Regions from separate parts of the Homo sapiens genome. Here regions 2 and 3 are each linked to region 1. The links come from fine-mapping of genetic effects on gene expression. A gene starts in region 1. Each other region holds a variant in brackets. All regions are shown on one strand. Distances are between the middles of the regions.

Region 1 (10,680 bases):
ACGCCACCTTGGTCTCTTTCAGAAGAAACGGCTTCCGAGGGACCGACACGAATCCGCACACATCTCGTGCTGAAATTTCCCCGGGAAGGCGCTGTGATCTGTCCGGTTTTCCTGCTCCCCGCCCCTCTGGCGGCCCGTAGGCCTGTCATCTAGAAGGCTCCCAGCTTTTCCGCGCTTCCGTGGGAATGCGAGAAGGAAAGGCTTTGAGAATGCAAGCATGAAAGGTGGTGTTCTTCTGCAGTCCTCTGGGAACCCCCCACTTCCCGGACCGCTGAGGATGCTAAAAGGAGCTTCCTTGCTTCCCCACACCTCCCCCGACCGGCGTTGGGACAAGATGGCCAAATGTTAGCAAATAATGTGTGCGGGGGCGGGGGAGCCGAGCACAAGGTGGAGAAGCCGCGGGAGCGCGCGGAGACCCCCAGCCCGGCGGCCCCCCGCAAACACGGCCGCGGGGGGCGGGGAGAGGGTGGCTAGGCTCGCGGGAGCTCGCCGGGCAGGGCGCCTCCCAGGAAGGCGGGGAGGGGAGCGCCTGTTTACCCAGGAGGGCTGTGCTGATAGCACGTTCCTCGAGTTTACTTTGCTTTCCTTGAGTTTATTGTAAAGGGGTAAAGTTTTCGGATCCGTCACGTGACCCTGACAGGTCCTGCCTATGGCGCGGCAGACCACCCACGCCGAGGGCCATGGAACTGCTTAATAGAAACAGGCTTGTAATTGTGAGTCCGCGCTGCACTCCGCCGAAAGCCTCCGGCGGCCCAGCGCGCCGGGGTTTTTACACTTTCCGTTCCTTTTGTAAAGACGGAGGAGGAGGAGAAGAAGAAGAAGAAAACGGAGGAGAAGAAAAAGACGACAGGGGAGACAAAGAGACCCGCAGCGACAAGGCAAGGGGGAGACGAGGGAAGACTGGGAGAAGACGGAGGAGCGGAGGACGAGGAAAGGGGGGCCAGGGAAAAAAAAGGAATTGATGTGAAATCCAAGCCCAGCGTCCGCGCCATCGGCACCCGCGCTCCGAGCAGGGGTTGACGGCCGGCTATGGTGAGTGCAGCCAGCGCGGCGGCCGCCGACGCCACCTCGCCTCGCGCGCCGTGCTCCTCGGGCGGCGCGGGGACACGGGGACGCGGGACGCCCCGCGCGGCGGACGGAGGAGCGAGCCCCGAGCGCCGGGCAGGAGGGGCGGGCCGCGCGCCGGGGCCGTGGAGCCGGGTGGGCTGCGCCGCCTGGGCGCGGGAGCGCGGGTCCCGCGCCTCCACGCTCGCTCGCACGCCCGGGCCCCCGCCCCCGAGGCCAGCCCCGCGTGGCGGGGAGGGGGCTGGCCGCGGCGGGCCCCGGCTGAGGAACGGCTCCGGGGGGAATTCTCACGGAGGGGGTCGCCGGAGCTCCCATTTTCACGCCTGAAAGGGTCGCCACCTTGGCTTCCGCTCATCAGCCTGGTGGTGGCTACTGACTCGCCAGCGGAGGCAGAGCTGGTGATGGAAGGGCTGGTGCGGAGAGTGACAGCGCCGAGGGGAGGGGGCTCAGAGCGCGCGCGCGGAAGCCGCTGCCGCCAGCTCGCGGGAGCAGCCGCAGCCGCAGGGAAGGGCACGCTCGCGCCCCGCAGACCCGCTCTCGAGCCCGCACGCACGCCTAGGGGTGCGGGACACCCGGGCTAGAAGAGACGCACCTTACCCACCTCCCCTCCCATGCTGCGGGAAAAGGGCCAGAGAGGCTTTTGGAGTTCTGGAAGGGGCGGTGGGTAAGAGAGGTGGTGTGTGTGACTCTTATGCCCACCGATTCAGGCGCTTGGGTGGCTGCCACCCTTACAGAGATGGGCGACCAGCCCAGTGCTTAGAGTGCAGAGTGCGGCCTCAGGGGAGCCCGGGGGCGGGCCGGACCGATTCTCACTTTACAGGCCCGGGCCCAGCGCTGAACCCCAAGACCCCCAGAAACTGTGCCTCTGGGTGACATGCGCTGTGTCTCCACGTATTTAGTACGTTCATGTTTAAAATGATGCTAGCGTGTGGATGAGCACACTCTCAGGGAAACTGATCTGTTTCCATCACCTAAGAAGAACCATATGGGTGGGCGGCTGTGGAAGACACCCACAGACCTGTTTTCCTGCACCTGGGAGAGAAGACCGTCTTCCTCCCTTTTTATCCTTTCTTCCTCCCTGGGGAGGAGAAATACAAAAGAACTAGACATAAATAATAAAGAGCCACAATGGGTGGCTCTAAATATTTGATAATTGGATCACTGAGGTCTTGAACTACCACAATAGTCCTTTTTCAGCATTCTGTGTGTGTGCATTTCTTTTAGGTTTTTATTTATTTCTGTGTTTATTGGCGACAGTAGTTCAGCATGCAATTAATCGCCTCCACAAAGAAAGACAATGCTTTATGGTGTCATCCTTTGTTATTGCAACTTAAAATTTCTGGGTGGTACTCCGGATAAATTGTTGCCTCAGGTGCATGGAGTGCCCAAGTTGTAAAACAAGGGGCTTTCGATTGTGAGTTTATGTGTGTTCCAGTTGTCACCCAGCTTCCTTCCACAAGGCTATAAAATGCCTTTGAGTCCATGATCTGTTTCAATTAAAATGTTGAATCAAGGTAGACATCAATAGGCCCCGCCATTCTCAATTTGGGGTATTAGCTTCATTTCAAACTCACTGTGAGTGGTGTATCTAATTTCTGGTTATAAAGTAGTCATAATCTTTGAAGCTATTTGAACAAAACTTAGAACCATTTGGAATTATTTTCTGAAAAGAAAAAGGCTGTTTTACAAAATTATCTTCAACTTTCTACAGATAGATAAACTGATGAGGTTAATCAATGTGGATTAAAATATGTCTCCCGTTTTTATCCTCATTCCTCTCTCTCTCTCACACACACACACACACACACACACACCTTTTATTTTCTCCAGCCTCTGCCACAGTGTATAATGCCCTATTGAGACGTGTAGGCGTGATGTGTAAACCGGATTAGCAGTATGAAAGAAAGACACACAATAAGCTGGAATTGTTTTACTTCCCTTTCATTTCTCATGCCTATATTTCTGATAAATTTGTTGCTCCAGCAGTGGGTCAAAGGGATCATGTTGCTCAGCTTCTTTTTCATGCAGGACCCAATAGCAGAGATCACTGAAATGAATGGTGTGCCTCCTAGCAAACGCAAAGCTTGATAGAGATATATTAGACAGGGAGAGGCGAGGAGAGGGAAGGATGCAAAACATGTTCAAAGTCTGGGTGTTGTAGGAATACATCTCTATCCATGAGAGGAAAGCAATGTGGGTAAGAATATATTTGGAGAGAGAGGGATCAATGCAGGGGTCAATGCTCTGTTTTCTTTCAAGTTCATAGTAGGCTCTGAACATTCAGCAGTTGGTGACATGCTTAGCAAGAGAATACCAATAGCTTTTGGCAATACATAAAGTCTAATTCCCCTTTCAAGCTAGTATTTAGACCTGGAGTAATCAATGTGGAGATTTCTGGGACCTTCTCAGGACACTCCCCTCTGCCGCTTTCCCCACCCCCAGCTCACTGTAAGCTCAAAAAATGCCAGTGCTCCCGGGTTTGTGCTGTAGACCCCTCATTTACTCCTTTGTGGAGTTAGGAGCAGCTTCCCATTAAAGGAGATCAGGGGTAATTAGCAGCATTATTTTGACAAGTTGGCTAGAGCTGTTCCCTTTCCTCCAGCCTGGGGAGGGGGTAAATAAGGGGAGGAAACAGAAGGTGGAAGGGAGTAGGGGAGGGGAGTCAAGCCCAGTAGTTTTAAATTTTGTAGCTGCTGAATCTCCCCCCACCCCGTCCCCGACTTCCCTGAAACCTTTTAGACTCATTTTCTACCATCACCTTTTAAGAATATACAAAAGCTGCCAATGAGAAAATAGTAAGGCATTCTTAGGGAGCCAAGAAAATGTGGTGGATGGTGGCACATTGGCTTGAGTTGAGTCGACTCAACTCATATTCAAGGTACCTGCTTGGAACTGCTGAAGCCCTGCCTTGACCATCACTCACATCCTGTATCCTGGGCTCCCCATGCAGTAAAAGAATATTGCATCAAATCCCCAATTCCTCTCTCCATCCGACCCTCTCAACAAAAATACTGTAGGACTTAAAATCATGTTTGCAATTCCTTGTATTTCTGGAAGAGTATTAAACTCAGTAGACAAAATTATAAATGGCCCCAGGGTCAAATTACTGGAATACATTAACCCCTTTATTCATTTATACTCTGCAAAACTTGCCAAATTACATTGGATTTTAAAGACTCATTTGGTTTGATCTGAGAAACCAGTGAAAAGTTAAATCTCACTGTGGTTTTTCATAACTCCACCAAGTCTGGCTTCCACAATTGCTTACCATTGGAACATCCCAACACAAAGGGCAGATGTTTTATTTCATTGTCATCATTTGGATAATCTGATGTCATTTTTGAAATGTGTGTGGTGTGGCCATGGATATTTGTAGTATTGGAACAGAGAAGGGAGGAGATGTGAGGGAATCCGGAGAGCTTAAGGCATCTGCTTTGAAAACTACACACTCCAATGAGAAGTCTTGGATCATGACTGGGAGACCAAAATGACAATTTATGCATTGAGATGAACTTTACTTGGAAAGGGGAAATGGAACACTCAGCTGTTGCTTCATAAAGGCTGGCAACTCCTGCTGGCTGATAAGGCCCCAAGTTCTCACTTATTTTTATTTGGTAACTGTCACAAGGGGTGCCAGAGGCAGAAGGGCCATTTAAAGGGACTGTCTTCCCGGAGGACACCTTAGCAGGTCTGGCTGCCCCAGTCTGCATCTCAGATCTGTGGAATCCTTGTGGTTAGTTGAAGTTAACAAACCCGGTGTGGCACAGCAGTCCCCTGCACAGGGCATGCATATTAAAGCCGACAATGCTTACAAATGTAAATAAGGGCAGATTGATTAGGAACAACATTATCGCTGGGAATGTCGCACTCGCATGCATCAGCAATGAGGCAAATTGGGGGCAGCCTCAGCCCTGACCACCCAAGTCGAGCAGGCTTTTACACTGGCTCCTCTTCCCTTTCTTAAAACGTTACAGAAACAAGGCCAATTAGATCCTCAAAGTAATTCATCTCTAAGTATGAAAAAAGCAGACCACAGGGGAAGCGGCGGGTGGGGGGTGGGGAGATTAAGATAGCGCTCGTTAGAGCCGAGGCTCCGGAGTGCGTCCTGGAACCCACGGGTAGAATTTACAGGCCGGGACCATTGTCTGAGATGCTGAAAAGTTAACCCATCAAACAGCGGGCGAGGGGGCTCAGGGCACTGAAAGCTCCGGGGATCAATGTTCAAAACGTTTAGGAATTAAGTCAAACTAAGGGATATGGGCCTGAGTGGAAGAGGCTTTGCCACTGAAATGACGTGCATGTGGCAGCCGCCGGAACCAGAGGACATGCAGCCGCGTGCGGAGAGTGAGGCGGATCCATTACGGGCACACAGCTTACCATTTCCTTCCAGAATTCCTTCTTCCAAACAAGCTATACTGAAATCCCTCTAGTAAAAGATTGAGACGAAACACTAATAGTTTTGGGCCAAAACGTGGTGGAGAAGTTTGAAAAGACAAACATAGCAACGTGTCTTTGGCTATATGGTTCCTTGCCCTCCAGCAAGCTTGAAATATAAAAAGGCTAACATGCAAAACTAGGGGTACTACCCCCCTCCCCCAGTTTTTAAAAAGCAATTTCCAGAAGCAAACACACAATGGTTCGACTTGAAGTGTCGGCATAACCATTCAGTAAGAAAAGCTAGAATAGTAAACCTCTTTTCCTGTTTTGTGCTATTTATCAAACCTAATAAACATCAGGATCGTACTCAAAGATGAAACTGGCAATGTGTGGAGCCGTCTGAGCTCTTTATCAACTCAGTGTCATTTTCCTCGCATGCTGCCCGCCTGCTTTCCGAGTTTCCGCAGCCCTTCCCTGAGGCACTCACAAAATCACGTGCTCCTTAAGCGGTCTGAGTTTTGAATTTCCGCGCTGGCCCGGTGCTCAGGTCCCCCTCCGGATCCCGCGAACGCCCCCAAACACCTCCACCCCGTCTCCCTCTCTTCCTCGGGACATCCCGCCCTGACCCCGGCACCGCATACGGTTTGCGGGTTAGGGGGTCGGGGGAAGGGCCTCCCCCTGAAGCCGGGGAGGAGGAGAGGCTGGAGGGAAGGTGGCCAGGCTGGTGGGGGAGGGGAGATTGAGGGAGGGAGCGGGGCGAGGGAGGAAGGAGAAGGCGCAGGCCGAAGGAAGGAAGCGGGGAGGGGAAACCGCCGGGGAGGAAGGAAGGGGGCGGGGAGAGCCGGCGGACGGGCCCCCTGCGGGAGCCGCGTGGACCGCCCCGGTGGCCGGCGCGCCCCGCCGCAGCCCCCAGCGCGCCCGGGCAGCCAGCGCGGGGCCGCTGAATGGGCAGGGACTCGTGAGCGCGACCATTGGCCGGTCGCGGGGAGGCGGCGCGGGCATTGGGCAGCGTAAGGGGGCCGGTCCGCCTTCAGGAATGTACTACGGCGCGTCCGGCACGTCCGTCCGCGCCGGCTGGGCGCGCGCCTCGCCTGGGCTCTCGGGAGACCGCGCTGGAGGCCCGGAGCCGGCCCGGCGCATCCGCCTCCCTACCTACTCTGCCCCGGCCGCGCGGGCGCGGGGAGTCCGGGAGCCGGGCGCGCGCGCGCACCGGGCCTCCTGGCGCGGGGTCACGTGGCCACCGGAGCTCCGCCTTCTCCCTGCTCCTCCCCCTTTCCCTCCATCTGGGTTTCTTTCTTTCCTTTCCTTTCTTTCTTCTTTTTTTTTCAATGAACATACACCGTGCGCATCTTAAAGCCACACCGCCCCATTTCACGACTTCACTAGACTTCTCGCTACTGCCAGTCCCTCTGCAGTTCAACCCCGTTTAAAAAAAAAAATAAAGTGAAGCAAATCAAGGGTTTGCGGGTCGGGTTCCTACCGCAGGGAGGAACGTAATAACTTGGAAACGTAAGAAAAACACATTCCACTTTCCGAAAACAAAAATTTTTTTAAATAAAAAGCCTAGTTGTGTAGACGTGTCTGGCTCCAGAATCCACCTCAAAGGGTCGCGTGTTTTCCCCCTCCGCGGGAAGCGAATCCCCGGGATGCCTTGGTGACACTGGACGCGGTGTCGGGACGAATCCTCGCGATCCGCGCACAGTTTGTTTTCAATGAATCCAGCATCGGGGCATTTATAATCTCCTACGTCATACTATTATTAAATATAACATGCATACCGAGTTTTGTAAAAAAAAATACTGACTATATAAACATCTGGTTAATAAAAAGGGGTGTACAAATGAACCCAAAATAATCAGGAAAACTTTACTCTCTCAAGGAAACAATTCCGTTTCTCTAAGTTGTAAAAAAAGATTCTGTTGTTTCTCTTTTACTTATGTCACATTCGAGATTCAAATAAAAACGCCTCTGCCTCTACAAGACTGCTTCGGTGTCTGGATTCCACGTTTATAGAACACTGACTCCTTCAAACCAAGACTGTGTTTTTTTTTTTTTTAAGTTGGGGGGAGAAAGCGGCTGGGGGGCAGACGGATTTTAAGAAAGATGGCTTTTCCCAACGTCCTTGCTTTCCTCTTTAACTTTCCATTCTGTTTATCTTAATGCGAGGCGTTGTTCCCTGCAAGAGCCTAAGTCTTCCCTTTAGTTATAAAAGAAAAGAGAAGAGGAAAAAAAAATCTGGCACACACTGGCGCACTATCCAGCACGCTGTCATTATTGGTGCAGGCCTGGGAATGCGAGCCGGACCTCCCAGTATTTGCTGCAGCTTGAGGCCAAGGTGCCTCTGAAAGGCTTTTCTTTGAGGAATTTCAGAAATTGTTTAAGCGCTTAAAAAAATATTACATTTCCCCCCGTGTCTACCGCGAGGCAAATGTTCGTGTGTGTGCGTGCGCGCGCGTGTGTGCGCGCAAAGGCATCCCACAAAAAGAAGACACTGTTGAAAAGAAAAGGAATAAGAGAGAAAGGAGGGGGAGCATTCCTTAATGGAAGTATTGCATGCGAGAAGGTTGGCGCTCTCAGAGGCTGCCCCGAAGCCGAGGATGCACACACTGGGTTGCCTACCTGGGTGGTCTCTCTACTTTGGTGAGCTGTTGCTAAGCAGCTAATAATAGTCATGTTTGCTGAGTAATTTCTGCCCTCCGCGAGCCAATCGCGTCGCAGAAACCCAAGCCATCTGACAGCCCCGGGGGCGGGAGCTCCAGCCTTTTTCTCTTTCGCTCGCTCTCTCCCCCTCCACCCCCTCCCCTCCCCTCCTCCTCTTCTTTCTCCAAATGGAGAGAGTTCTTTTTTTTCTTCTTCCATCTCATCTATTGAATCAAGGAGCTGCTGCGGCCGCTGCCCGCTGCACACACACAGAGCGGAGTCCCCAGGTCCCGGGAGCGAGAGAGGCGCGCTGCACGGGGACAGAATGGTCCAGCGGGTTGCCGAGGAGCACAAGAAAGCAGAGTCCGGGACCGAGCAGCCACCGCGAACCCAGCAGCCAGAGCCCGAGCAGCCCGAGCAGCAGCTCCTGGAGCCGCCACCGCCAGCAGCAGCCACCGCGGGAGCAGCGGCAGCTGCGGCTGCCCGGGCCCGGCAGCGCTGAGACCCGCCGGGCACCCTCGGACCCCGCGGCGGCGGCGGCTCTGCGCTTGCCCTCCGCGGCCGCTCGGGCGACCCGGGAGGCGCCGAGAGAGCCAGCGCGGCCGGCGGGAGCAGCGGGGATTCGCTGGCTCTTTCTGCAGTGAAGGGGTCGCGGCGCGGGGCGGGGGGCGGGTAGGGGGAGTTGGGGACCGCAAGGAGTGCCGCGGAAGCGCCCGAAGGACAGGCTCGCTCGGCGCGCCGGCTCTCGCTCTTCCGCGAACTGGATGTGGGCAGCGGCGGCCGCAGAGACCTCGGGACCCCCGCGCAATGTGGCAATGGAAGGCGCAGGGTCTGACTCCCCGGCAGCGGCCGCGGCCGCAGCGGCAGCAGCGCCCGCCGTGTGAGCAGCAGCAGCGGCTGGTCTGTCAACCGGAGCCCGAGCCCGAGCAGCCTGCGGCCAGCAGCGTCCTCGCAAGCCGAGCGCCCAGGCGCGCCAGGAGCCCGCAGCAGCGGCAGCAGCGCGCCGGGCCGCCCGGGAAGCCTCCGTCCCCGCGGCGGCGGCGGCGGCGGCGGCAACATGGCCTCGGCTGGTAACGCCGCCGAGCCCCAGGACCGCGGCGGCGGCGGCAGCGGCTGTATCGGTGCCCCGGGACGGCCGGCTGGAGGCGGGAGGCGCAGACGGACGGGGGGGCTGCGCCGTGCTGCCGCGCCGGACCGGGACTATCTGCACCGGCCCAGCTACTGCGACGCCGCCTTCGCTCTGGAGCAGATTTCCAAGGTGCATTTCAGACTCTCTCCTCCCACTTTCTCTTCCCTCCTCTAACTCTTTGGGATCGCCCCCGCCACACACAAACACACACACTCTCTTCCTCTCTCTCTCACACACACACACACACTCACTCACACCTCTCCAGGAAAAGCAGCAGACAAATGGGGATTGAAAAATTCAAACCCTCCCTCTGGTCCTGGGAGGAAAGGGCTGTCTGAGGTCCGCAGGGGGTGGAGGTGTGTGTGTGTGCGTGTGTGTGTGTGTATACACACGCCCTCCCTGGTGTGCCTTTTCCGGAGCACTGGAAAGCCGTCCACGGCGGACCACCTCAAGGGCGGCCGCGGCACTGTCCTGCCCCGTGCCCCCTGCCCTGAACTTCTTCCTCCTGCGCCCCTGCCCCTATTTGCAGCCTAAACTCCTGTACGGCTGCCACATTTCTTAACATCTTGGAGGGGGAGGCGGAGTGGAGAGAGGCGGAGAGAGGAAGGGGGGAGGGAGCCGAAATAAAGGTGGTTTCCTTTTTTGGCAGCCAGTTTTGGTTTTGTTGAGCATGAAATCTCTGCTCCCTTAAAAAATTATTCTCGGAAAAAGATATCCCCCCCGTTTTCCAGGTTTTGAGCCGCCTCTCCTTAGGGCCTGGTCGGGGGAGGAAAAGTTGTAAACAAATTGCCACCTTAAATTCGCGGTGCGAGTCTGCGGAGCTGCCGGGTTCATTGTGTTTACGAGGCTCGCTGAAATGTGTGGAATCCAGGGAAGGCGAGCACCCAGACGGGGGCCCGCCGGGGCCGCGGCCAGCGCCGGGGAAATGCCGCGCCGGGGAGCAGCCTGCGCCGGCCTGAGCCCTTCCCTTTGCACTCGGCTGTTTTTTACGTTTAACCAGAAAGGAAGGGAGAGGAGGGAAAGATCCATGTGGCTGCCCTCTTCCGATCACAAATATTGTCGTAAGTTGCAGCTGGCTGCCCCACTTCCTAATTCAGCTCACACAGCCTCTCCCCACGCTATGGAAATGCGTCGGGAGTGAACTCCGGCGGCCGCGCTCACCACGTGGATCCCCACTTACTACCATTCTCGGCGGGGGTCCAGTTGGGGGAACCCGCAATATGTTGTTCCAAAGAGCGCTCGCCCCTAGCGCCCGTCCCCGAGGGTGATGGACAGAGCAGGACTGGTTTGCTGGCTCCTGAACCTTGGGCTCCATCGCTGGGATTACGCAGCCCCTCCCTTCTCAGCTCTGGGGTGAATATTGTCTGTGTCGAGTGGTTTCTCTCCTCTCTACCTCGGCTTCCTCTTCTGTATTGCAGCCCCAGTGCCCCAAGTCGCTCAGGGATCCCGCGGGTGGGGGCGCCCTGATG
Region 2 (10,680 bases), 240 kb before region 1:
TAACAAAATGTTGCTCTAGCTGCGGCTTTGCACAAACCCTGCCAGGAGACGGAAGCCAGAGGGATACGCCCAGTGGGAAGGAGGCAGGGTTTCTAGGGCTTTGGTCCTCTGTGATTTTGTTCTGTGCTAAAAACAGCTTTGCAGGTCCCCACAACTTGCTTTTCTCAGAAATAGTTCCCAATGCAATGGACCACAGAGACATCAGACCTTGGTTCCCTTGGCGTTTCTTTAGGAGAGACCGCAGGAGAAAGAGATGTCAGGGCAGTTTCTCCATCTCGCCACTATTGACATTTTGGGCTAGTCTCTCTTGTGGTGGGCTGTACTGTGCGTTTTAGATTTAACATCATCCCGGCCATCACCTACAAGATGCCATTAGCAACCCCCTCTCCAGTTGTGACAGAAATGTCTCCAGATATTGCCTGGGTAGTAAAATCAACCCCAGTTAAGAGCCAGGGTGTTGAGAGTCTATATATACATTAACTAAAAAACAACGTCCTGAAGTATCCGAATAGGACAGTAGAGGTTTGACAACACTAGAACAGTCTAGTAAAGCTACGCAGAATAGACCGGTGGTAAACATTTTTCATCAGCCAATAAAATCCTGATTAATTTATCTCATAGGGTGGGGGGGAAATGGTAATCAATGATCATAAAATTTGAAAAAGATTTTTAAATAATAACTTCACGGTGAAAAATTTTTAAAAGACTATGGTGATGATGCTGTGATTAGCTATAATGCGGCTAGTATTTTTGAGCACTTTCTATGTGAAAGGCACTGTGCTAAAATCTGCATTATTTTCCTTAGTCGCAGCAAATATATAGGAGGTAGGTCCTGATATTATCTCCATTTTACAAATGCAGGGCCTGGGCCTGGCCCAAGACTGTTTCCAAAGCACTCTCCCGAAGGTTCTCTGACTACAAATCATTCCCCACTCCCTGAATCCAAAACTGAGTTGAAAAGATGGTATGTATTTGGATAATTATGGAATGGGTTTTTTAAATCCCAAACTCAAAATAATAATAACGGCTACTATGTAGCCATTGCCTGGGGGCGGCAGGTGCATCCTCCCTTTCAATGCTCGCAGTTGTCCTGGGTGAGGGACTTGCTGGCGGTGGCCCAGCGGCCGAAGCAAGATTTCAGGGCAGGAGCCGCTGCCCCTGCCTCCTCCTGAGCGGAAATTAGCTCCGAGGGTCTCCAGGTGGGACCCAGTCCCGCTCCGCGCTGTTTCTGGCTGCTTCCCTCCTTCTTTCTTCTCCGCCACACCAGAGAGGGGCACGAAGGAGTCACTAGACTTGGCCTGACCCCCCGCGCCTGGCAGTCCCTGCCCCGGGGTGTCTTGCTTGAAGGTCGGGAAGACAGTCCTTGGCAGGGCCTGACCCCCCCACCCGCTGAGGGCCCTCCTTTTGAGGCCTCTATGGCAGCCCCCGCGGGCTGACCTGGCCGCCCCCACTGAGCTCCCTGGGTCGGTCCTGCTGGTCTCCGCCTCGCTGGGCTCCTCCCGGGCAGTCCCCTGCCCCCCCACAGCTCTGCGGGACCTTCTCCCCGGAGGCGCCGCTCTGCCTCCCGGGGCCCCCGCAGGTCGCTCCTGCGCTCCCCTCGCCTGGGTGTGAGGAGGACCCGGCCTGGGGACCTCCTGCGCTGGCGCCACTCTCCCTGCTCGCTCCCAACCCGCGCCGGGAGGCTCCCGTCTGTAAGAGGACGGGACACTGAGAGGGCAGCGGGAGGGGGGGCAGATCGTGCGTGACGTGCCCCACGCATCTGAGAAGGGGGTGATGTCTTTGGCACAGGATGAACAAGTTAGTCGCATTTTTCAATGTTTAATGCGGCCCCTTCCCTGCTACCTGGCTGTGCGAAGGCGCACTGCGCCCTCCCTCCCTCCCTCCCTCCCGGAGCTCAGGCTCCCTCCCTCCCCGCATCCCTCTTCTCCCTCCCTCCTGCAGCTCAGGCCCCATCCCTCCCCTCCCTCCCTCTCGCAGCTCAGGCTCCATCGCTCCCCTCTCTCCCGCAGCTCAGGCTCCCTCCCTCCCTCCCATCCTCCCTCCTGTGGCTCAGGCCCCATCCCTCCCCTCCCTCCCTCCTGCAGCTCAGGCTCCATCCCTCCCCTCCCTCCCTTCCTCCCTCCCTACCTCCCGCAGCTCAGGCTCCATCCCTCCCCTCCTTCCTTCCCTTCCGCAGCTCAGGCTCCATCCCTCTCCTCCCTCCCTCCCTCCCTCATGCAGCTCAGGCTCCATCCCTCCCTCCCATCCTCCCTCTTGCAGCTCAGACTCCATCCCTCCCCTCCCTCCCTCCCTTCCACAGCTCAGGCTCCATCCCTCCCCTCCCTCCCTCCCACAGCTCAGGCCCCATCCCTCCCCTCCCTCCCTCCTGCAGCTCAGGCTCCATCCTTCCCCTCCCTCCCTCCCGCGTTCAGGCTCCATCCCTGCCCTCCCCCTCCATCAGGCAGCTCAGGCTCTGTCCCTGCATCCTCTCTCTCCCACAGCTCAGGCTCTATCCCTCTCCTCCCTCCCCTCCCTCTGCTGCTGAGCATCCCGACTCACAGACACCACTGCAGAGCCCGCACACGCCTTGGTTGTGGACAGAGCACATTTGTACACATTGGTCAGAACTGGTCAGGCTTTTCCACAGCCTGAGGAGGAGAAAGTGCCCATCTGACTGAGGTACTCAAACGTGACCATAGTTACCACCATGAACAACTTTAGAGTCTGTGTTTTCTTCCTTGGACTAAAGACATACAGGTGTTTGAACTACTTTTGGTTGACATGGTCTTAGAGTCTATAACACGTTGGCCAACAAGCCCATGGCACTAGACTCCAGGGCTTCAGGACTGGTCAGCCCCGGATACTGAGGCCCTCCCAAGATTTCCTTCAGGTAGGAACCTTGTGGAGGCCTCTGTGGGCCCCTGCACACCCTAAGGTGAGCAAATTCAGCCTCTTTCATCAGGAAACCACAGTTTCCTCCGCTCCTCTGTGGGTTTTGAAGCCTCACCTCAGAGTTCCAGTAAGAGCAATGGTTTCTAAACCTGGATGTGTAAACAAAGGGCCTTGAATTCAACATAATTTTAAAATGCAAATATAGGCCTTACACATGTCCTTGAGGGTTTAAGGCTAGACTTGGGTTGCGAGGCCTTGGGCACGTCACTTAACTTCTGGACTCTCCCATATCCATCTTCCAAATGGACCCTAATGCCAGCCCACTCACTCAAAAGGCTTTATCCATAACCAAATAATGTCAGCAAAAGAATTTATAATTTTTTTAATCACATAAATAAAATTTTCTTTTCTGACAAAAGGTTCTACACAGGCCCCTCTTTGGTCCTTTCCATCTCTAACTTGCTGTAATTGCTGGATGGAGGGGCCGCGCCATTGCAACTGAGACTCGTGGGAACTCACCATGTTATGTGCATTTGACAGCTGCCTGTGACTACGAAGGATGACAGATTCTCCCAAACAGGGAGAAATGATCAGCCCTAGCAGATAGAGGGTGAGGCTTGGGAGCAGCCCCGCCCAGGGCACAAAATGGTGCATTGTTTGAGAGACATTAAAAGCAACCATGAGGCCAGGCACAGTGGGTCATGCCTGTAATGTCAGCACTTTGGGAGGCCAAGGCGGGAGGAACACTTGATGCCAGGAGTTTGAGACCAAGCTGGGCAACATAAGAAGACCCCATCTCTGCTAAAAATACAAAAATTAGCTGGGTGTGGTGATACACGCCTGTAGTCCCAGCTACTCGGGAGGCTGAGGTGGGAGGATCACTTGAGCCCAGGAATTTGAGGCTGCAGTGAGCCATCATCTTACCAATGCATTCCAGCCTGGGCAATAGAACAAAACCCTATCTCAAAAATATTAATAATTAATTAATTTTTTAAAAAGCAGCCATAAAACCCACTAAAGGGTCTGCTTCTTATTTTCACCTAAACAACACCAGTGATGAACTCTTCCTTCTTGGCCAAAAAACCTTTTCTTGGTCTCGGTTTTAAAAATTGCTGCGATTTTGTCTGAGCTTTAATAATATAGCTGTAGATTTCAAATCAGCACATTTTCATGCTTACCCTTCAATAACATTCTATTCTCCACGAGGTTAATCTGGTTAATCTGGAGCACTCCCACCTCCAACACGTGCGGACTCAGCCAACGGCATCTGTTTCAAGCTGCATTCAGGAGGGCCCAGAACCGAGGTGGTTTCAGAGCAGGTCATTCCACAAGGCCTGCAGGGCTGCACGTGCCTGCATGTAAGCAGCAGGTTTGAAAGAAAGAGTGACAGCACAGTGATCGTAGAGAGGAAAAACTACAACTGCAGGGACTTGAATTCTGTCACTGCAGGTGACCACTTTCAGTTTTTATTTGTGTTTAAAATTTAAAACAGTGAGACAGCGTACAAACTGCGGGGGGTAGTATCTTTTTATTAAGTGTAGATTGTACTTCATTCATGAAATATTTTACTGGATGGGAATCATATCTTTCTGTTGAAATGTATTTTCCTTTTAAAATTTTTGTTTTAGATCTAAACACTAAGGAAATGATGACTACTAATGATTATTACTTGAAAATAATATTATTGTACAGAGGAGAATATTAAAAAAAGATCCAAGCTAGGTGCAGTGGCTCACACCTGTAATCCCAGCATTTTGGTGGCCAAGGCAGGCAGATCGCTTGAGCTCAGGAGTTTGAGACCAGCCTGGGCAACATAGGGAGACTCTATATCTACAAAAAAATTCTTAAAAAAAGATTAGCCAGGAGTGGTGGTGCAAACCTGTAGTCCCAGCTACCTGGGAGGCTGTGGTGGGAGGATGGCTTGAGTCCGGGAGGCAGGGGTTGCAGTGAGCCGAGATTGTGCCACTGCCTTCCAACCTGGTTGACAGAGTGAAACTTCATTTCAGGAAAAAAAAATTGATTCTGCTCTGAAAGTCAAGTACACCACCAATGATGAGAAGATGTTTATTTCTCTCTGTTGCTGTGACTAGTCAAAATTGGAAGAACAGGTAATAGGAAATGGCCAATCTTCTTCAGGTTTCTAATA[A/G]GTTTCAACTACAATGGAAAGCTAATTAGCTCGATGGAACACTTGCAGGGTGTTTCTAGTGAGACATGCCGCAGTTTGTGCTCAACTATCGCAGAAGGATGGGAAGGACTCACTCATCCATCCACTCATTCATTCATTTGACAGTTCTTCAGGGGGTGCTTAAAGACACTGTTCTGGGATTTGGGGGCATAAAATCTCTTGCCTTATGGAACTTCCATTCTAATTTGGGGTGTGAGGACTCTGGCAATAAACAGGTAAAACAGACAGTAGGGTCGGAGGTGTTAAGTGCTGTGGAGACCAGCAGAGCAGGGAAGTGGCAAACAGGAGCCCTGGAGGACTCTTCTTGCTAAGCTGAGGGAGGTGAGCAGCGATGGGAAGGTTGGTTATGGAGGAATGCCATTGTCCTGCAGGTGTTAGGAGGACTGGACTGTCTCTAGGTATTAGACCGGCGGATGCAGGCAAAATACAGTCTGTGGGCCAAATCTGGCCCTCAGCCTGATTTTGTGCAGCCTGAACAAAAGAGTGGGTTTTGGAGAGAAAAGTGAGTTTTGGAGTTTGTTTTTTTGAGACAGGGTCTCACTCTGTTGCCCAGGCTGGAGTACAGTGGCACAATCTCCTCCCCGGGTTTAGGTGATCCTCCCACCTTAGCGTCCCCCGAGTAGCTGGGGCTACAGGCGTGCACCACCACACTTGGCTAGTTTTTTTGTATTTTTTGTAGAGATGGGTCTCCCTATGTTGCCCAGGCTGTTCTCGAACTCCTAGATTCAAGCAGTCCACCCACCTCAGCCTCTCAAAGTGCTGGGATTATAGGAGTGAGCCCCCTCACCCAGCCAAAAGTGTTTCTTACATTTTTAAATAGTTGATAAGAAGTCAAAACAGAGTAATACTTTGTGGTACATGAAAACGACGTGAAATTCAAACTTCAATGTCCATTTGCTTATTTATTTTCTGTGGCTGTCTATGTGCTGTGAGGGCAAAGCTGGGTAACTGCAACAGAAACCATAAGGCTAGCAAAGCCTGAAATACATACTATTATGTTGGTGCGAAAATAATTGCACCAACCTGAAATATCTGGCTCTTTACAGAGGAAGTTTACCAACCACTGATTAGACCATAGAGGGATGAGGGTGGGAGCAGGGAGATCAACAGGGGGCTCTTGCAATAGTCCAGGTGAGAGGATCCTGGCTTGGACCAAAGAATAGAAGAGGAGGCCATGAAAAGTGGTTGTATTTTGGATATACAGATGGTTCCCGACTAACGATGGCTTGATTTATGATTTTTTTTAACTTTACAATGGTGCAAAACAGATACACATTCAGTTGAAATCACAGTACACATTTTGAATTCTGATCTTTTCCTGGACTAGCGATATGCAGTATGACACTCGAGACGCTGGGTGCAGCAGTGGGCCTCAGCTCCCAGTCGGCCACGCAACCACGATCACCATCACTTTATAACCAAGTGTTGAATATCTCATGTAATTTACTAAAGCAGAAAAATCATTTCAACTGAAAGATATGACTCCCGTTCAGTAAAATATTTCATGAATGAAGTAAAGTCTACGCTTAATGAAAAGATATTACCCCTCACAGTTTGTACTCTGTCTCGCTATTTTACATTTTAAACCTGACCAAGACTAGAGATCTTCCTGAAGAAGTCCATGCCGGCCAAGCCATGGACAAGTGTGGATGCCCCAGGGCCTGCTACCAGGTATTGTTGAGGCTCATCAGAAGACAGACATGGATGACCCTGTCACAGTAGCATCCCCATCATCCAATTAACTGTAGTTCAATGTGTCCCATATCCTTCAGGCCCTTTGTGATTTCAGCTGTGGATGTCAGGCCCTATACAGCCCTTTTGTTTTCCACCTCCAGTACAGTACTTAACAAATTGCATGAGACAGTCGACACTTTATTGTAAAAAAAAAAAAAAACAATAAAGGCTTTGTGTTAGATGACTCTGCCCAACTGCAGGCTAACCTAAGTGTTCTGAGCATGTTTAAGGCAGGCCAGGCTAAGCTCTGATGTTTGGTAGGTTAGGTATAATACATAATTTTTTGACTTAATGATGTTTTCAATTTATGATGGGATTGCTGGGACATAATCCCATTGTAAATTGGGGAGCATCTGTATTTTGATGGCAGAGACATCAGGATTCACTGATAAGTCCAGTAAAATATGTGAGAGCCAGAAAAGGGTCACGCAGAAGGCCAAGGGTGTAGCTTGTACAGTTGGATGCTGGGGGTTGCTGTTTACTCAGATGGGGGAAGCTCTAGGAGGAGCAGGATTTTTTCGGGGGGGTTGGGGCAGAGGATCAAGAGTTCAGTGAGATCATATCATAGTCCTGTTGTAGTAGTGAGGGTTGGGTATTCTTTTTCCTATTCACCTAATTCAGCTCTGGTAGCTGCCTGGACCTATAATAAATGGCTAGGTATACTCGCTGACATGGAACCTAATGTCAGTGGTATGTTAGACAGACCAAGAGACTCAGACTAACCTAAGGGACATCACATGGGTTGCAATGGACAATGGTGTCAATAAAATTAAAAACAACAACTATTAAGCAACATTGCAGTAGGTTGGGTTCCCCCAGAAGCTGATTTTGAGACACAGGTTCATGTGCAAGAAGCTCATTTGTGAACTAATCTCAGGAACCACTAGCAGGAGAGGGGGTAAGTGAAGACTATGGGGAGAGGGCCGCCTACAGTCAACAGATCGCTGTTCAGGATATGGGGTTCAATCCTGCTGGGGACCTCTAGGAGACCGTACCAAATGTGCCTCTGAGTTGTCCTACCCAAGGTGAGGCTGTTGGGGTATTTATCCTCCAATTCCTCTTTATTATTGGCTGAGGAGATGATAAATGCCTGGCACTTCCACTTCCCAAGTGTGACCTCGGCATGTTTTTGTAGGTAGAGAAAGCTCTCCAGTAAAGTTGCAGGTGCCACTGGTGTCATTGAGAAGGGCAAGTGCCAGGGAGTTCATATTCCCAGTGAGACAGCAAAAGCATCTGATGGAACATGATAATCATGGAAGTGCAGACACCTGCCACCAGCACTCGCTTGTAATGCCCAGAGCCCTGGGGAAAGCTCGACTAATCCCCAGGCCTGTTTCAAACTACAGCCAAGGAGCTTTCTCAAGACCAGAGAAAGTTTTTGAAGGCCCAAGGCATGGTTTCCATATTTGGCCTCATTAAGTCAATTCAAGACCTTTTTATAACCAGAGCGAAAATGTTTTCATGTGATGTATTTCCTAAATTGCTATAAATATTTTTCACGTATGTAGCTTCAATATCGATTTTATTAGAAACAACATGGATTATCTTTTCATTGCTAATGAAAAGAGAAAACATCACTTCATTTACTGAGAACAGTGGCAAAATATTCTAAGATATTGATCAAAAGTTGGGCTGACTACCACTTGTGTTAGCCAGTAATAGAAGCTTCAAAAGGCAGCCCAGGGATAGGCTGAGTTCCATGAAATGAGAAGAGGATTTAGTAGGCAAAAAGTACCTGGATATGTAGATGCAGGTTCCATGGATAGCAAGGCTGACTTTCAGCTTCAACTTACAGGTAACCGAAAGACTGAATAGATCCCATTCCCTGATACTTCCTGATCTCTTTAGAAATGGTTCCAGTCCACCTACAATGAGATATAAGGGAAATAACAGTCAGGCTGTCCACCTAGAGGGGTGAACAAATAAATGCAAACCTCAGAATCACGTTAGTTATTGAGAAACACTCACACTCACACACCAGATGCTCTGAAGGCCAAATAAGTTGCTGTCTACCAAGTTCATGGGCTTAGCGCTAACTACAAGTTGCTTAGGTATTCTGTTAAATCACCTGGATCGTTTAAGGATTTTCATATTTTCGTAACCGTTAAGAGTGTATACAATGTACAGTGATTTAAAGAAAGCAGAACTGGCCAGGCATGGTGGCTCATGCCTGTAATCCCAGCACTTTGGGAGGCCGAGGCGGAAGGATCACCTGAGGTCAGGAGTTGAAGACCAGCCTGGCCAACATGGCAAAACCCCGTCTCTACTAAAAAATACAAAAATTAGCCAGACGTGGTGGCAGGTGCCTGTAATCCCAGCTACTCAGGAGGCTGAGGCACTTGAGTCACTTGAACCTGGGAGGCAGAAGTTACACTGAGCCAAGATCACACCACTGCACTCCAGCCTGGGTGACAGAGACAGACTGCCTCAGAAAAAACAAAAACAACAACAACAAAAAAGAAAATAGAACTCCCAGGTCCATGAAATCATGACGATTGTCACTAAAAATATATCCAATGTATGGAGGCAGGAAGATTTTGTCATCACACATCACAGAGGCCATAAGCCACTGACCTCGTTGCCTCCCTCTTCTGGCAGAGTATGCCTGGCCTTCAAAGGTTGAACACTTATTTTTCAATATTTATTAGCTTTTTAAATTTGTCTTTGAATTGCCCATTTACAGTTTTGCCCGTTTTCCTGTTAAAGCGTTTGTCTTTTTCATATTGATTTGTAAGAGCTGTTTAAATAATTGAGATTGAACATTTATCTGTTGCAACTATTGCAAATATTCCTTTAGTTTTTCATTTCTAAAACTTTATGTGGCATTTTATGACATGTAGAATTGTATACTTTTATGAAGTTATAGCCAAGGTCTTTATGATTTTTTTTCTTGACTTTTATGTGACTAGATGAATATCCACTGATATTTTTCTAATTCATTTAGGTTTTTATTTTAAGTAAAACTCTTCAGACCATCTGGGATGTATTTAGGCAGGGGGAAGGAAATGTAATATTTTTTTTCCCAAATTGTTAACCAGTAGTGTCAGCCATCAATTACTGAATAATCCTTCCTTACTGATTTGTTAACAAGGTGGAGAATTTTATTCCCCAAAATGCTCCATGAGTTTTCTGTTGAAGTGAGAAACAGATTTGCTTCCTAGCGGCTCTCATGTGCTTTTGCCCAGAGGGTGCTAGGGATGCTCGGGAGATGAGGTGGTTCTAGATGCTCTGGCCATCCTAGAGAGGTCTGGCATAGGGGCAAATGGAAACAGAAGTCCTAGGGGACAATTCTGCTGTCCACTGTGGCACAGAGGAGAAAGAAGCAGAGCATTTGAAGGAGAAAGTCAGTGGGGATGCCATGAGAAAGCTGCGTGGGCGAGAGAAAGGAGAGGTAGCTGGTAGCTACTGTGAGTACTGAAGTTTGGGGAACAGAAATATTTCCAAAGAAGATCTTCAGGAAGTTTTCTAAAGATGAATTTCTTTCAGAAAATCTGTAGCAAAATTTCTATCATTCTTGAAAGTGTCTTAAATTGAATGTGTTTTCTTGGAATGAGACTGCAAAAACTGGACTACATGCGACATATATCTGGGTTCACCATATATCACGAGGCCATTTCAAAGACATTTGGAATGCTGCCTCATTTGTTAAGAAACTTTATATATTCTTTACTTAAGATGTATTGCTAAATTCTTAAATATCATAGCTTCTTTCTGAGATTTAGATTATATTATGTTCTTGTACTAGGTCCTACTTACTTAAATGCTCATCCTTTTAACTTTCTCTGTTACCGCCCATAAGGGATCTTCATCTATCACAAATGATACATCTAGATTATAGTAGAATCTAACCCCAGCCAATGAAAAACATAGCTGGAAATCCATACCTTATT
Region 3 (10,680 bases), 250 kb before region 1:
TACTCAGGAGGCTGAGGCACGAGAATCACTTGAACCCGGGAAGCAGAGGTGGCAGTGAGCCAAGTTCACACCATTGCACTCTAGCCTAGTCAAAAAGAGCAAAACTCCTTCTCAAAAAAAAAAAAGAATTCAAGAAATGCTTCTGCTTTCATAGTTTCAGAGGTACTCCTAGTCTACAAATGTTAGGCGATTTAAGAACGGCTTATCTCATTTTACAAAGGGTTTCAGTGCCCACCTTTGGGCATTAGGGCATACCTGGAAGCTCCGAGCCTGGGCCTACAGTGGCAAGAAAGGGTAAGGCTTTTGTGCAGGAGAACAGCTCATTACGTGGTAATGCCAGCAGGTATGTAGAGTTCTAGACCTGGAAGGGACTGGGGTCCACCCTCTTGTGTTGCAAATGAGGGCTCACACTGCCACGGCAGTAGCTGGCCTCTGACTCAGGGCTTGGGGTGAGAGGATGCAAGTCTCAGCTGGGGTTTGTACTGTTATCTATCACTGCATAGTAAATTACTTCAAAATTTAGTAGCTTAAAAGAATGCCATGTTTTGGACTCATAGTTCCTGGGGGTCAGGAATCTGGGTATGCTTGGAGGACCCCCTCCCTCAGGGTCACTCATAGGCTGCAATCATGGTGTGGGATCCCAGTGTCCCGTCCCGCATGGCTGTCATAGAGACTCAGCTGGGGCAGGATCCACTTCCAGGCTTGCTCCGTGGTTGGCCTCCAGTGGTGGCAGGACCCAGTTCCCTGCCAGCTGTTGGCCAGAAAACACTCTCAGTCCCCTGCCATGTGGACCTCTCCAGTGTGGCAGCTTGCTTCATCAAAGCCCACAAGAGAGAAAGAGTATGTGCTAGCAAGGTGGAAGTCACAGTCATTTGTAATTTAATCACAGAAGCAAGTCACTAGGTCCAGCCCATACCAGGTCAAGGATGACATCAGGGTGCATCTACCAGAAGGTGGGAATTGTGGACCATCTTCAAAGTCAGCCTACCACAATTTCCATAGCTCCTCTCGCTCCATTTTCTAAGGGACGGCACATCCTGCCCTCACCACCTTTCCTTTTGTTCTGAATGCTAGGGCACTCTTTCCTTCTCACCCTGTCCTCAGCCCTCCCAGGTTTCTCTGAGGAGGCATCCGTCACCCACCCTCTTGCAGAAATTGACTGCATCTCGGCTAGGACCACATGATCAATCCACGATCACTTACTCAGATGGTTTTAATTCTACTTCAACCTTCTAGGCCCAGCCAGACTCAACACCGACCACAGCCTCTGAGACATTTGGGGAGAGGGAGTTTTCACCACAGGGAATTTGGAATAGGCAGCAGTTATCAGATTGAGAGGGGAGCCCTGGCAGGGAGGGTCAGTGGAAACAGTCACTGGCAGCTGCTACTGAGGCATTTGCTGAAAGGGAATGGTTCCTTTTTTTTTCTTTTTTTGAGACAGGCAATCTCAGCTTACTGCAACCTCTGCCTCCCGGGTTCAAGCGATTCTCCTGCCTCAGCCTCCTGAGTAGCTGGGACTATAGGCACACACCACCACACCTGGCTAATTTCTATATTTTTAGTAGAGACAGGCTTTCACCATGTTGGCCAGGCTGGTCTCGAACTCCTGGCCTCATGTCATCGCCCGCCTCAGCCTCCCAAAGTGCTGGGATTACTGGTCTGAGCCACCGCGCCTGGCTGAGGGAATGTTTTCTAGGTTTCTAACAAGCTGTCAGATAAAGTGATGATGGTGGAAAATTCTAAATTAAAGAAAATTCTAACAGCCTCACTCCAGTCGTGTCTCTGCAGGTCAGATTGCATGACAAAGAAAAGATACAACTGAGCTTTCCTTCTGAGATCCAAGCAAGGCAATTCCACAATTCCACAATTAATGGGACACAGTTTGGGGGGATGGCTGTGGTCTGTGTCATATTCCATTCATAAGGGGATATTTAGAACAATTGCACAGTATGTCTGCTGTGTGCAAACCAACAGCACTCTAAATACATCCAAGTGCAAAGTAACCTGGGCTAACACAGGCTTCCTTGGCCCCTCCTCCTTAGCCCATTGTGCATGTTTTATTATATATTTTCTTCACAACTCCCCTTCTCATTTTGACATCCACCCATAGTGGCCATTTGAAACTGTCTGCTAAACGTTTGAGTTGTTTATTTCCCTCCCTCCCTCCCTCCCTTCCTCCCTTCCTTACTCCTCGTCCTTTCTCTTTCTTTCTCAGTCTATGATGCCACCCCTCTTGTAACCTTGAATGCCCTTTGTAAACTCTACTGCCTTTTCCAAAGCAGTTTCAAAACTCATCAGAAGGAGACAGGTAGTGGCTACGCTACGAACGCATCCACCGCAGCCCTGCGTGCTTCTCTCCGGACTAAATCCTCTGAAGGCTGGGTGTGCTGAGCACTGTCCGCCTTCACGGTGAGATGTGTGCGTGTCTGGACTTGTCAGGCCGGAGACACTGAAATGTCCTACCTGTATTCCTCTTGGGGGATCCTTGTTTCTGGAAAATGATTTCTCCTCACATCCTTACAGCTACTTTTTAGACAGAGCTTTCATTTCTGCATGGAGTCTCCAGGGTGTTGACGGTGCCTCCTTTGCCTCATCCTTTTAAAGCATTTTTACTGTTTTTCTTCGGCGGGGGGGGGGTTGAGGGGGCGGGTGGGTTCTGTAACTATACGGCTGTGTACACATATTTCTATCCTGGAGAACAGCCATTGTATGAGTTTGCCAGGGCTGCCATAACAAAGTCCCACAGACTGAATGGCTGAGACAGCAGAGATGTATTTTCTTACAATTCTAGAGGACAGGAATCTGAGATGACAGTGTGGGAGGGGCTGTTTGCTCTTGAGGCCTCTCTCCACGGCTTATAGATGGCCGTCCTTTCCTCCCTGTGTCTTCATAGAGTCTTCTCTGTGTGCAAACGTGTGTGTGTCCTCATTTCTTTTTATAAGGACACTAGTCATAGTGGATTAGGAGGGTCCACCCTAATTACCTCACTTCCACTTAATTATCTTGTAAAGACCCTATCTCCAAATCTAGTCATATTCTGAGGTACTGGGGGTTAGGATTTCAACACGTGAGCTTTGCAGGGGACATAATTCAGCCCACAGCAGTCATAAAACAGAAATAAGCAAAATAATAATAAAAAGCCATCTATAATCTCACACTTTTTGATCTTCCAGTGGCTCCCGATGACACTCAAGGGTCAATGCCAGCTCCTTGACCTCAGCCACATCTCCCCACTCTCCCCGCCCCTCCCCCTCTGTCACCTTCTCCTGCATGCTCTCCATGCACAGGCCAATTCTCATCCTGCTGGGGCCTTTGCCCCTGCTGTTCCCAGACAGCTGCATGGCCATGGACACAGCCCAAACCTGGAAGAGCAAAGAGGCCTCCCACAAGCCCTCTCCCCAGGCATTTGAGAGCAGGGTGTCTCCACCTGGCACTCAGTCCATTTGGGGCTGGAGAATTCTCTGTTATGGGGCTGTCCTTTGCATTGTAGGATGTTTAGCAGCATCTCTGGCCTCTGCCCACTAGAAAGCGGCAGGACTTCTGCAGGTGCGACCACCTAAAGTACCCCCCGGTATTGCCCGAGGCCTCAAAAGAGATGGGCTAGGATAGAGCTGAAGAGCGGGGTGAGGCTCTCATCTCAGTGCCTCAACTCCCTCATTTATAAAATGAGGATAAAATTATTCATAATATGTTAGTTCATGCAATGTGAGCTAGTTTAGTTTAATAGGAGGTAGACTGTGGTGAGGCTTCAATGGGAGAAGATGTATTGAGCAAGTAGAGGAAGGCCAGACCCAGAGCAGGTGTCCAGAGAGCTGGAGCCTTCTTATTCTCTCAGGACCCTGATATTTTATTTATTTTTATTTTTATTAATTTTTTTGTGTGAAATGTAGTCTTGCTTTGTCACCCAGGCTGAGTGCAGTGGTGCGATCTCGGCTCACTGCAACCTCTGCCTCCTGCATTAAAGCAATTCTCCTGCTTCAGCCTCCCAAGTAATTGGGATTACAGGCACATGCCATCACACCCGGCTAATTTTTGTATTTTTAGTAGAGATGGGGTTTCGCCGTGTTGGCCAGGCTGGTCTCGAACTCCTGACCTCAGGTGATCCACCTACTTTAGCCTCCCAAGGTGCTGGGATTAAAGGCATGGGCCACCGCACGCAGCCAACCCTGATATTTTCCTGTACATGCTTATTCATTTACAAATGCCACAAAGCAGGTGCCTGGGAGACTTCATGGCACATAGTAGGTGCTTTATATCCATATGCTGAATGAAGAAATGGAAGTCTGGCCCAACTATGGTAGAAGGCACTGTCTGTTGTGTTCCGGGACACAGCTCCAGTGCAGATGGCACACAGCACCTGGCACATAGTAGGTGTTCAATAAATGTGTTGATTGATGGCATATGACAAATGAAGGAGATTTGTTATAAACTCTGGCCCCTATAGCTTCATATTTCCATTACCTGCCTTTTGTTACTGATGTCTCTTCCCATCATTTTTCTTCTCTCCTATGAAGTTTTGAGGAACTTAGAAAACAGACTTGGCCTTTTTCCTCCTGTGATGGGACTCCCAGGTGCAAGTGACATTTAAGGTCCCTGATCAGCTAGTGAGTCCAAGTCCTTGTTTGACTTGTCTGATGTCCCCTTCCCCAAACCCTTCCC[G/T]GCACACAGGACTACTCCTATCCCATCTCTGTCCGTGCCCAGGCGTGGTCACCATCTTACCTGCTTCATCAAAATGAGCATGGCCTCCCCCCTTTCCATGGCTCACAGGTGAGTCTATGGCCACCCTACCTTCCGGGAGGTACACTCTTTATTCGGGACCCAGATGTCACAACTGTTACCACACAAGACATACCAAATACTTGTTTTGCAAGCATCTCAACCATCAACCACACAGTGAAGGAAGGTTCCAATGAACGCTTCACAACATCCACAAGTGGTGTCTGTGGTCTGGTCTGGTTTTGGTTGCGTTCTGCCACCACATGGCACCAGCCCTCCAATGCCGTGTGTAATGTCAGGGGGCAGAATGGAGTGCTGCTGATGAAAAAATGACAACAAACACACAGGTGCCATGTGCCAGGCCCAGTTCCAACTGCTTTAGGGCCACACCTCCTGAGTCCTCCAACAACCCCACAAGGTAGCTCACTATGACTGGCAACCCGCAATACAGGTGAGGAAGCTCAAGCTTGGAGCAGTAAAGTAACTTGCTCAAAGGCCAGGATGACCAGCTGGCCTCAGTTCACCTGGGTCTTTCTTGGCTTTAGCACCAAAAGTTTCACATCCAGAAAAATCCCTCAGTCCCTGGCAGGCCAGGATGATTGGTGACCCAAGCCAGGTCACCCAGATGATAAGTAGCAGAGCTGGGATCTGAATCCAGTCAGTGAGACTCCAGTATGCACACTCAACTGCTGTGAAAAGCAGCTTTGGAGATAACTGTGATGTGTGTAACCAAGGATGGTAACCAGGAAAAATCAATTGGCCAATTAGTCAAATTCAGGGAGATACTCTGAAATGAATCTTGCATCCATAATGACAAAATAGGGTGAGTCTGTACACCAAAACCACGGGCCCTATAGAGGAAATAACACTGGTATTTCTCTTTGTCTAGAAGTATCCAGGCCGGGCATGATGGCTCATGCCTGTAATCCCAGTGTTTTGGGAGGCCAAGGTGGGCAGATTGCTTGAGCCCAGGAGTTCGAGACCACCCTAGGTGACTTAGGAAGACCCCGTCTCCACAATAAAAAATAAAAAATAAGAATACTAGTCAGGTGTGGTGGCGTTCACCCGTAGTCCCAGCTACTCAAGAGGCTGAGGTAGAAAGATCACTTGGATCTGAGAGGTCAAGGCTGCAGTGAGCTCTGATCGCACCACTGCACTCCAGCTGGGCAGAAGAGTAAGACCCTGTCTCAAAAATAAAATAAAATAATCCAGTTCACTGTCTTAATTTCCCCCTTTGTCACTGGCCACAGAGACCTAGGAATTTAACTTAGGGTCTTGATGCAGGAGATGTCTTTATTTCTAAAACCATGAGTCAGTCACCTCACAGGGGGACATCAGGCAAAGCTGAAACATCCCTTGTTTTCGTTCCCACACTACATCACATGCCTAGCAAAGACTAAAGTAAACTGCTCCTTAAGTATTTCCTTCTGCCAACAGGATTATTTCCCATAACCAATAATGCTGGCTTAGAATAATGAAATAGGGACTCGAAGGTCAGCTTTCAGGCTGAGTTTAAGTCTGTCATTAGAGGGGGAAAAAAACCCACGGAGTTGGATAGTGCCACGTGTCTTTTGCTTAGCACGTATTGAGCTTGTCATAAATATGCAGACACATCCCTCGGCCTTACCTTTATCTTAAATTAAGAATGGCATGCTTGGCCTCTTTCTGACTACGAATGTCTTAGTTAAAAACCAACTCAGAGCTCTTGGGCTGCGAGGCACTCTCTGGCTTGTGTTCACTCAGTTCTGAGTGCTGCCGGGCCTGCTCCTCTGCTGTCAGGGAGCATTCTTGATGTTTAAGACAATAAGCAACCCAGGAGATTAAAGAAGAGCCGTCCTCCGTAGGGCTCAGACAAACTGTAGGACAAGTTTCTGAGGGTTTACTATGCCTGAGAATTAGCTAGGAAGTTTATCTAAAATTCCCTGGTGATTCTGGATCTGCATTTCTTCATCAGTAAAACGCAGGTTTGGCACATAAACCGTAAGGGTTTTCTTGCTCTAGAATTCTCTGTAACGATAGCTCCTTGCCCTATTAGCAGACCATGAACCTCGGCAGATCTTTTATTTATTTATTTATTTATTTATTCATTAGAGTCAGGTAAACATGAAACCTGGAGATTCTGATTCCATAGGTCCAGGGTGGACCCAGGCATCTTCATTTTTTTTTTTTTTTTTGAGACGGAGTCTTGCTGTGTCACCCAGGCTGGAGTGCAGTGGCGCAATCTCAGCTCACTGCAAACTCTGCCTCCTGGTTCAAGCGATTCTCCTGCCTCAGCCTCCCCAGTAGCTGGGATTACAAGTGTGTGCCACCACGCCTGGCTAATTTTTGTTATTTTTAGTAGAGATGGGGTTTCACCATGTTGGCCAGGATAGTCTTGAACTCCTGACCTCGTGATCGACCCTCCTCAGTCTCACAAAGTGCTGGGATTACAGGCGTGAGCCACCGCGCCCGACCTGCATCTTCATTTTTAACAAGCTCCCCAAATGATTCTCATGAGGTTCAAGGCATGTTACCCCCAAATCTGGCACCTTGGCATTTGAGAAAATAGCAGAAGCGGGAAAGCCCTCCTGCCCTGACACAGGTCCTACAACCTAGAAGGTCACTCTCTGACTTTCTCCTGCTCTTCTCTCCTGAAGCCAGTCATAAGACCCTCATTTGAGAGGTTCCCCCTGTACCCAGAGGAGAGGAGTATCCTTATCTCAGAAGATGCAGGGACATAGAGAAGAACCTGAACAAACGCCTTGCAAGTCCCCCCAGGCTAGCACCGCTAGCTCTCCCCTGTCCAATCACACTTCCGCACGCCTGACCACTCTTCATCAAACCTAAGCTTAAAAATATGCAGGTTTCCCACTTTCTTTGGGTCTTCATTTCCACAAACTCTCATGTCAGGTAAAACTTACATGAAGTCAATGTGTATGCTTCTCACTTGTTAAGCTGTCTTTTGTTATAGGTGCCTCAACCATGAACCTAGCAATGAATGAGGAAAGAAATCTTTCTTCCCCTACAATTCTGCTGGGTTTTGCAATCACACTGTGAGAAACTCTACCCTGAGACGTCAAACCGAGGTTTGTCTCACACACGTTTCCTTAAAATTTCCCATATAAGAAAAAATAGAAGCCTAAAATTTAAAGCATTTTCCACATTTTCTCTTGGGTATATGTTTTGTTTAACTCTCTATCCATGGGTGCTTGGGTAGGCAGGAATGTTATCACACCAGTTGTGGATATTAAGTAATTGGCCTTATTTTTTTTTTTTTTTATAGAAAGAATGCTATTGGCTCCAAGGTGCGGTTTGGAAGACGACCGACCTCTATTCCGACCTGGAGGTCAGCTTTGAGGATGCCTCTGCCTGCCATCTTTGGGCGTGTTCACAAGGCACATTTCTTTGAATAGATTTCAGCAGCGACGCATTTTCACTTCTGTGGGGTGGGTGCAAAAGTCATTCAGAGCTGAGTCTGGTGGAGAGGACGGGTGATATGCTGGGAATACTTTTTGCTTTAAAAAGCATTTAAAGTACTTAAATACTTTTTTTTTTTTTTGAGTCAGAGTCTTGCTCTGTCGCCCAGGCTGGAGTGCAGTGGCGCGATCTCGGCTCGCTGCAACCTCCGCCTCCTGGGTTCAAGCGATTCTCCTGCCTTAGCCTCCTGAATAGCTGGGACTACAGGCACCCGCCACCACACCTGGCTAATTTTTGTATTTTTAGTAGAGATGGGGTTTCACTGTGTTAGCCTTGATGGTTTCAATCTCCTGACCTTGTGATCTGCCCACCTCGGCCTTCCAAAGTGCTGGGATTACAAGCATGAGCCACCACGCCCGGGCTTAAATACTTTTAAAGTACCCTTAAAATTAGTACTTTGGGTCTGGGTGTGGTGGCTCATGCTTGTAACTCCAGCACTTTGGGAGGCTAAGGCGAGAGGATCACTTGAGCCCAGGAGTTCGAGACCAGCCTGGGCAACATAGGGAGGCCCCATTTCTCCAAGGGTAAAAAATTAGCTGAGTGTGGTGTCATGTGCCTGTAGCCCCAGCTACTTGGGAGGCTAAGGCAGGAGGATTGCATGAGCCCAGGAGGTTGAGGCTGCAGTGACCTGTGATTGTGCCACTGTACTCCAGCCAGGGTGACAGAGGAAGATCCTGACTCAAAAAGAAAAAAAAAAGAAAAAGAAAAAGGAAAGAAAAAAAGAAAAGAGCACTTTTGTTTATAAGAGTAGGTAAGATTACTAAAATAATTCAAGTTAAATTTGAGATTTTTTGAAAAACGCTGCATCATCATGCTTTTCTAGAGAAAAAACATAACTAAACACCTGTCAACATTTAATCATCACACAGCAAATTATATTCTATAAAAACAGTAGCCTGGGCTGGGCGTGGTGGCTCACACCTGTAACCCCAGCACTTTAGGAGGCCGAGGGGGGCAGATCACCAGGTCAGGAGATTGAGACCATCCTGGCTAACATGGTGAAACCTCGTCTCTACTAAAAATACAAAAAATTAGCCAGGCGTGGTGGCACGCACCTGTAGTCCCAGCTACACAGGAGGCTGAGGCAGGAGAACTGCTTGAACCCAGCAGGCAGAGGTTGCAGTGAGCTGAGATCACACCACTGCACTCCAGCTTGGGTGACATAGCGAGACTCTGTCTCAAAACAAAAACAAAAACAAAAAAACCCAGTAGTCTGGGCAACACAGTGGGACCTCATCTCTACAAAAAATTTAAAAATTAGCCTGGTGTGGTGGCGTTCACCTGTGGTTCCAGCTACTGGGGAGGCTGAGGCGGGAGGATTGCTTGAGCCCGGGAAGTCGACTGGATGACAGAGCGAGACCCTGACTCTAATAAGCAAATAAATTAAAGATCTGCTAAGGTTCATGGATGGCTCATGGGGTGGGGGCTGTTGTTACAGTGAATTCTAGAGCAGGAGAGAACCTTAAGGTTTATGTACCAAACCTTCCATTTTATGGATGAAGAAATACAGATCCAGAAAAATGTAGTAACCTGGCCAAGTTCTCACAGCCAGCTTGTGCCAGCGCTGGAGCTAGAACTCAGGCCTAGCCTGGTTTGTTAAGAGAGAAACCAAGCGCTACGGTTTCATTACCTGTTACTATATGGATGCACGCCTGAGCTAGAAATCAATATGAAGAGAGGGTCAGATATTTCCCTTATGCAAAACTGCTAATTCAGGGACTACAGGCATGTGCCACTGCACCCGGCTCTGTCTCTCTATTTCCTTACAGCTTAACTTAATTTGTTTCAGACATCTGTGGACATATTGACCTTTATGATTGGGCTCATGGGAGAAAAAGATCATTCATACAGAGCCAGCGGTTTCATCAAGCCAACTATTGACCCCTTGTCTAGGGTTTTTCTCTGGTGAACAGAAATTCCTTGGGTAAAAGAGCAAGGTGCATTGACAGAAAATGCTAATTCTCCAGTAAATGAATAGAGATCGTCCCTTTCTCTCCTGTCAATTGGCTGTGGAGGAAGGAACATGTAGTCAAAGGAGAGACATGTCATAATATCCTCTCAGAGCTGCTTTCTCCTCCAATACTACGTCATGTGCCCATGATTCAGAGTAAAGAGGAGAGCAGGAATGGTTGAAGGAAACAGATTATACAATAGAGGATCCCAGCTAAGGACTCCTGGGGAAAGCTGAAAAAAATGCAAGGTCTCTGCCAAAAGGCCCTGTAGGGAAATTCCTTTCAGAACCCAAATTTGGCAAAAACTTCAACGCTGTAAAAATCGCCATAGCTAGGTTTCTGATTGCATTTTCCCCTGAAACTATATGGGATGTAGCTTGGCTCTGGCATGAGTTTAAGAATAGAAGCGGTAAATACTAACTTTAAATTCTGACTTTTAGCTACTTTGAGACCTTGCATAATCTGTGTGTTTTCCTTCCCAAATATGTAAATAATGTTTTTACATGTATAAGGATTAATTTGGCCTGAGAGCTACATCGAAGAGAGGCCCAGAAGT

The links. PIP is the estimated chance that this variant, and not a neighbour inherited with it, causes the effect.
Region 2: its variant is the best candidate, but not a certain one, in a credible set for the expression of PTCH1 in whole blood (INTERVAL, PIP 0.65).
Region 3: its variant is the best candidate, but not a certain one, in a credible set for the expression of PTCH1 in T cells (TOPMed, PIP 0.88).

The regions. Positions count from the first base shown.
Region 1 is chr9:95,506,821-95,517,500 of GRCh38, reverse strand. PTCH1 (patched 1) reads left to right here and starts at 8,235. Exons shown (of 24, transcript NM_000264.5): 1 at 8,235-9,340. The coding sequence starts at 9,140. RefSeq lists enhancers at 4,469-5,441, 5,307-6,068, 6,069-6,832, 7,786-8,335, 9,921-10,554 and silencers at 5,996-6,045, 6,266-6,705, 8,980-9,299, 10,080-10,129, 10,660-10,680.
Region 2 is chr9:95,743,194-95,753,873 of GRCh38, reverse strand. No RefSeq gene overlaps it. Among named protein-coding and RNA genes, the nearest start is that of ERCC6L2, 130 kb to the left of the region's middle. The variant A/G (reference allele first, on the strand shown) is at 5,018.
Region 3 is chr9:95,756,823-95,767,502 of GRCh38, reverse strand. LOC105376161 (a long non-coding RNA gene) reads right to left here and starts at 2,571. Exons shown (of 3, transcript XR_930145.4): 1 at 2,464-2,571. RefSeq lists a silencer at 4,838-4,887. The variant G/T (reference allele first, on the strand shown) is at 4,660.